Regions from separate parts of the Homo sapiens genome. Here region 1 is linked to region 2. The links come from fine-mapping of genetic effects on gene expression. Tissue or cell type: whole blood. Region 2 holds a variant in brackets; the other region holds the start of a gene. All regions are shown on one strand. Distances are between the middles of the regions. Region 1 holds the start of LRWD1 (leucine rich repeats and WD repeat domain containing 1). Region 2 overlaps ORAI2 (ORAI calcium release-activated calcium modulator 2).

Region 1 (2,792 bases), 22 kb before region 2:
TAGCACATCAGGCTAGGGGCTGTTGGGGCAAAGAGCCTCTATCAGTCACCCTCCTCAACATCCTCCTGATGTCCAATTCTATCATTCTCCCAATGCCCCCACAGCTCCTAAGCACACAATAATCCTCTCATCCCCTTACCCTGCTGGTCAGCTCCCGATTCAGGTTCTCCACCTGAGAGTAAGTTGAGGACGCATCCTTGCCATTGACCTTACGGAGCGTGGGCAGGAGAAAGGAGACTTTCAGGTTGTCATTGACCTGGGGAAGAGAGGGTGAAGAGCAGTGGCTCAGGAGATGCTGAGCCTGAGCCCAACAGAGTCCTGGCCCCAGGTATGAAGCTGGTGGGAGGCTCCCACTTACCGTCAGGAAGGGGTTGCCCTCCAGGCTGAGTTCCTCGAGCTTGGGGAACTGGCACAAGGCAGTAACATCCCCCAGCTGGTTGTTGGCGCAGCGGAGGACACGCAGGTGGGACAGGCCCAGGTTGTCCGGCAGCGTCTCCAGGTGGTTGTTAGACAGGTCAAGCTCCTGCAGCTGCGTCAGGCGGCACAGGAGTTTGGGGTCCAGGTGCTCGGAAAGCAGCTCCAATCCTGACAGGCTGGAGTTGGGGGCAGAAGGCTTAGGGGGCGGGCAGGCTTTGCACCCTACACCAATCTGCCCCGGGTACCTCAGAAGGCTTTTTCACCTGACATTTCTCGTACAAGTGTAGCCGCCCCGCCCATCCCCCCGTTACTTTATTTTTAGAGACGGGGTGTCACTCAGTCGCCTAGGCGCGATCATAGCTCACAGCTGCCTCCAACTCCTGGGCTGAGGGATCCTCCCGCCTCAGCCTCTCGAGTAGCTGGGACTAGAAGCGCGCGCCACTACTCCCGACTCCACACCACTTAACAAAAAAAAAAAAAAAAAAAAAAAAAAAAAAAAAAAAGCTGCAACTACTTTAGGACTCGGGGGCATCCTAGCCCCCTCTAGGATGCTCTTCCTGATCCTTCGGGGGCTCGTCTGTGCTTCCCAGGCCCTCTAACGATAGCGGCAGGCTGTGCCCCTAACTGTCCGGGCTCCCTTCAGGGGATGAGGCCCCTCGGGGCTCCCGGCGAGCGGGTGGGGCCACGATCTCCCAACAAGAAGACATTTGGACCACTCTGCCGAACCCAGAGGGCGATAACGGGGACAAGCGGGCCGTTGGGGAGGGTCCCCGCTCTTCTCCCCGACCGCCCGGCCCCGAGGACACAGCCTCACCCGCTGCCCGGCTCTTACTCCAGACTCCGGATCTTCCCCAGCCGGTCGCTCTTGGGGCGCCCGCGCTGCATTAGCAGCCGCGCCGAGAGGGGGCCCATGGCGAGGAGGCGCAGCCCGCGCTGACCCAGTCGGCCACCCCGGCGTGTGGCGTCGCCCTGCGTCTCCTGGAGCCCGGCACTGGCGTCCGCGGTAACTGAGCCCAGGAGGCGGCGCCGCGCGAGCCCGTGGGCGTTAACGACCGGAAGGAAGCGGAACCCAGGCCTCGTGCCCCCGCCCGGCGCGGACTACAACTCCCAGCGGCCCCCACGGCCGCGCCTGCGCACTGGCCACGCGGACGGCGCGATGGCGGCGGCTGCCGCCGAGACCCCCGAAGTCCTTCGGGAATGCGGTTGCAAGGGCATCCGGACCTGTCTGATCTGCGAGCGGCAGCGCGGCAGTGACCCGCCCTGGGAGCTGCCCCCAGCGGTAAGGGGTGGGAGAGGGGCCGCGCCCACAAACGTCGCTCTGCATCTGGGGAAACTGAGGTCCAGCTTGGCCATGATAGGGGCCGGGATCGAAGCCTGTGAGGGACCCTTACGGTAGGGGTGATGCAGGGTGAGGAGATGAGGGCTTTAAGGAGCGGGCTTGGGAGTGGGGAAGGAGCTGGAACGTGGGTGGGTTCGATTACAGGTCACCTCGGGGACTCTGGGGGGATCTGCCTGTAAACCTCGACGTAGCCTCTCGGGTCTGGCGCTGGGAGCTTCACGGGCCTGCAGGGAGATGACACGGAAAGGGTCGATCGAGGGTGCTGAATACCAGTCCAACGGTGCCTGAAGGCCGTGGACTGCAATGGGCAAGGAGACAGTGAATTCCAGTTAACTAACGAAAAGGAACTCAAGGATCGCTGCAACCCAGGAGCTGGAGGCTGCAGTGAGCTATGATCGAGCCACCTCACTTCAGCCTGGGCGACAGAGCGAGACTCTGTCTCACAAAAAGAAAATAAATAAAAAAAGAAAAAGAACTCAGCGCCTTTGGGCTGGCATGGAAGGACTGTGGTTGGTTGCAAGGGCATTCCAACCCAGAAAACTGCGTGGGGTAGGAAGGTGGATTGGTGATGCCTCAGGTGAGAGAGATGAGGCTGGAGAGGTTGTGGGGGGGGGGAGGTCTGATCACAGATGCTCCCCGGTGCATCAGCTGAGCAGGCTGGACTTGTCCCAAAGGCCCTGGAGAGCTCTTGAAGGGTTTTAAAGGAGTGATGAAGTCAAATGTGAATTTTAGAAAGATCCTGGGAAGGGAACGGGCAGATATGAAGGTGTGGAGGCTGGTAAGCCAGTGAAGACTGCCCCAACGTCCATGGTAAAAGTGCCCAAGGTCCTATGGAAACAGCATGGCATGCCTCATGAATTAAACATAGAATTACCCATGATCCGCAATCCTGCTTCTGGGTATATATCCAAAGGAACTAAAAGCAGGGTCTGGAAGAGATATTTGCACACCCATGTTCATATTCACGACATTATTCATGACAGCCCAAAGATGGAAGCAAACCAAGCATCTATCAAGATACCTGGGCCGGGTTCAG
Region 2 (2,807 bases):
AAATAAAATAAAATAAAATAAAAAAATAACTCACAAGGCTGGGCCCCGGAGTTAGAGGCTGCAGTGAGCTATGAATGTACCACTGCACCCCAGCCTGGGCAATGGAGCGATATCCTGTCTGGGGAAAAAATAAAGTAAAAGATAAAATAAAATAATATATATGAAGATTTCATAATGTCCTTCAGCAACTGCCACCTCTTAGCAGCTCATTTCTTCACCTCGCTTTCAGTGGTGAGGGAACACTTCCTAGATAAAAGAAGATATGGCCGGGTGCCTGTAATCCCAGCACTTTGGGAGGCCGAGGTGGGCGGATCACCTGAGGTCAGGAGTTCGAGACCAGCCTGACCAACATGGTAAAACCCCATCTCTACTAAAAATACAAAAATTAGCTGGGCGTGGTGGTGGGTGCCTGTAATCCCAACTACTCGGGAGGCTGAGGCAGGAGAATCTCTTGAACCCGGGACGCAAAGGTTGCAGTGAGCCAAGATCGTGCCATTGTGCTCCAGCCTGGGAGACAGAGCGAGACTACATCTCAAAAAAGAAAAAAGAAGACATGGCAGTCCTAGTGGACCAGAGCCGAAAAACAACTCAGCAGTAATACAGTTGGGGCCCTTGTGAAACGTATCCAAAAACCAGTAGCCACGGAACATGGGCTGAGGGGTGGTTTTTCTCAGTGTGGCCCTGGGTTGGCTATGGTCACCTCAAAGGAAATGGCCCAAGTGACAAATATTACAAACCACAGAGGCCTCCAAGACAGGAAATAAAGATGATTATGAGGTAGGGGCAGGGCTTGCAAAAAGTGGTTTTGTTCCACCTTAAAAGGAGAAAAGCGGGCGCCTGTAGTCCCAGCTACTTGGGAGGCTGAGGCAGGAGAATGGCGTGAACCCGGAAGGTGGAGTTTGCAGTGAGCCGAGATCGCGCCACTGCACTCCAGCCTGGGCGACAGACAGCGCAAGATTCCGTCTCAAAAAAAAAAAAAAAAAAGGAGAAAAGGGGCTGAGTGAGGTGGCTCACACCTGTGATCTCAGCACTTTGGGAAGCTGAGGCGGGAGATCACTTAAGCCCAGGAGTTCAAGACCAGCCCAGGCAACAAAACGAGACCCCATCTCTATTAAAAAAAAAAAAAAGAAGAAGAAGAAGAAGAAGAAGAAGAAGAAGAAGAAGAAGAA[A/GAAGAAA]AGAGAAGGCAATTTTTCACTGTGTTTATGCAGCATTTTTTAAATTTAAATTAATTTTTTTTTTTTTATTGAGACAGAGTCTTGCTCTGTTGCCCAGGCTGGAGTGCAGTGGCGCTGTCTCGGCTCACTGCAACCTCTGCTTCCCGGGTTCAAGTGATTCTCCTTCCTCAGTCTCCCCAATAGCTGGGACTACAGGCATGCGCCACCACGGCTAATGTTTTTTTTTTTTTTTGAGACGGAGTCTCCCTCTCTGTTGCCCAGGGTGGAGTGCAGTGGCATGTTCTCGGCTCACTCCAACTTCCCCTTTCCGGATTCAAGTGATCCTCCCACTTCAGCCTCCCGAGAAGCTGGGGTTACAGGTGCCAGCCACCACGCCTGGCTAATTTTTGTTTTTTTGTTTTTTGAGACGGAGTCCTGCTCTGCCACCGAGGCTGGAGTGCAGTAGAGCGATCTTGGCTCACTGCAACCTTTGCCTCCCGGGTTCAAGTGATTCTCGTGCCTCAGCCTCCCGAGTAGCTGGGACTACAGGCGTGTGCCACCACGCATGGCTGATCTTTGTATTTTTAGTAGAGATGGGGTTTCACTGTGTTAGCCAGGATGGTCTCCATTTCCTGACCTCGTGATCTGCCCGCCTCGGCCTCCCAAAGTGCTCAGATTACAGGTGTGAGCCACTGCGCCCAGCCTAATTCTTGTATTTTTAGTAGAGACAGTGTTTCACCAGATCGGCCAGGCTGGTCTCCAACTCCTGACCTCAAGTGATCTGCTCACCGTGGCCTCCCAAAGTGCTGGGATTATAGGCATGAACCATGGCGCCCGGCCCTCCTTTTCATATTTTTAGTAGGGACAGGGTTTCCCCATGTTGGCCAGGCTGATCTGGAACTCCTGACCTCAAGTGATCCGCCCACCTCAGCCTCCCAAAGTGCTGGGATTACAGGCGTGAGCCACCCCGCCTGGCCTATGCAGAGGTTTTATGAGGTGGGGCCTTGGATCACTGGTTCTCTGTGTTGGGGGAAGAATACGCATCAAGAACTAAGCTTCAGGTTAGGCATAAGCACGTGTTGCTAGACAAAGGAACAGCTTTGCAATTCTAATGAGGGAAGACACACTATAAAGGGCGAACTCTACCCAGCAATCTGTACCTTTGCCTGTTCCCAGGGCCCTGCCCCGACTCAGCTACAGTTTCTGATGATTTGTATTTGTCACTTATTTTTCCCAGGCTGCCCTGCAGTGTGAAGAACGATCTGACCGGATGGCGCTATGCTAATCTAATCAAGCAGGTGCACTGCGGCTCCCCCAAGGCTCAGCTCCACGCCAGATGGTTCACTTGCTTCCCACTGCAGCTGGTGCTCTGTATCTATGAGTTCCACATCTGCAGATTCAACCAACCGCAGGTCAAAAATACTTGGGGGAAAAAAACAAAATGAAACAACAATATTTCTCCCTTGGTATAAGGTGAAGAAAAAAATAACAATAATTAAAGAAAAAAAAAACCAGCCTGGGCAACATAGCAAGAGCCACCTCTGGTTTTTTTTTTTTCTTTTTTTTTTTTTTGAGATGCAGTCTCGCTCTATGGCCCAGGCTGGAGTGCAGTGATGCAATCTCGGCTCAGTGCAACCTCCGCCTCCCGGGTTCAAGCAA

Evidence for each region. PIP is the estimated chance that this variant, and not a neighbour inherited with it, causes the effect.
Region 1: LRWD1 starts here. The variant in region 2 is the best candidate, but not a certain one, in a credible set for the expression of LRWD1 in whole blood (INTERVAL, PIP 0.67).

What each region holds. Positions count from the first base shown.
Region 1 is chr7:102,463,618-102,466,409 of GRCh38, reverse strand. It overlaps LRWD1 (leucine rich repeats and WD repeat domain containing 1), which reads right to left and starts at 1,426. Exons shown (of 15, transcript NM_152892.3): 1 at 1,250-1,426; 2 at 359-593; 3 at 140-256. The coding sequence starts at 1,329. It overlaps ALKBH4 (alkB homolog 4, lysine demethylase), which reads left to right and starts at 1,547. Exons shown (of 3, transcript NM_017621.4): 1 at 1,547-1,696. The coding sequence starts at 1,574. MIR5090 (microRNA 5090) reads right to left here and starts at 668; the gene lies at 584-668. RefSeq lists enhancers at 1-498, 776-875, 499-1,025, 1,155-1,804 and a silencer at 1,216-1,645.
Region 2 is chr7:102,441,452-102,444,258 of GRCh38, reverse strand. All of the region lies in intron 3 of ORAI2 (ORAI calcium release-activated calcium modulator 2), which reads right to left. Among named protein-coding and RNA genes, the nearest start is that of ORAI2, 9.3 kb to the right of the region's middle. The variant A/GAAGAAA (reference allele first, on the strand shown) is at 1,170.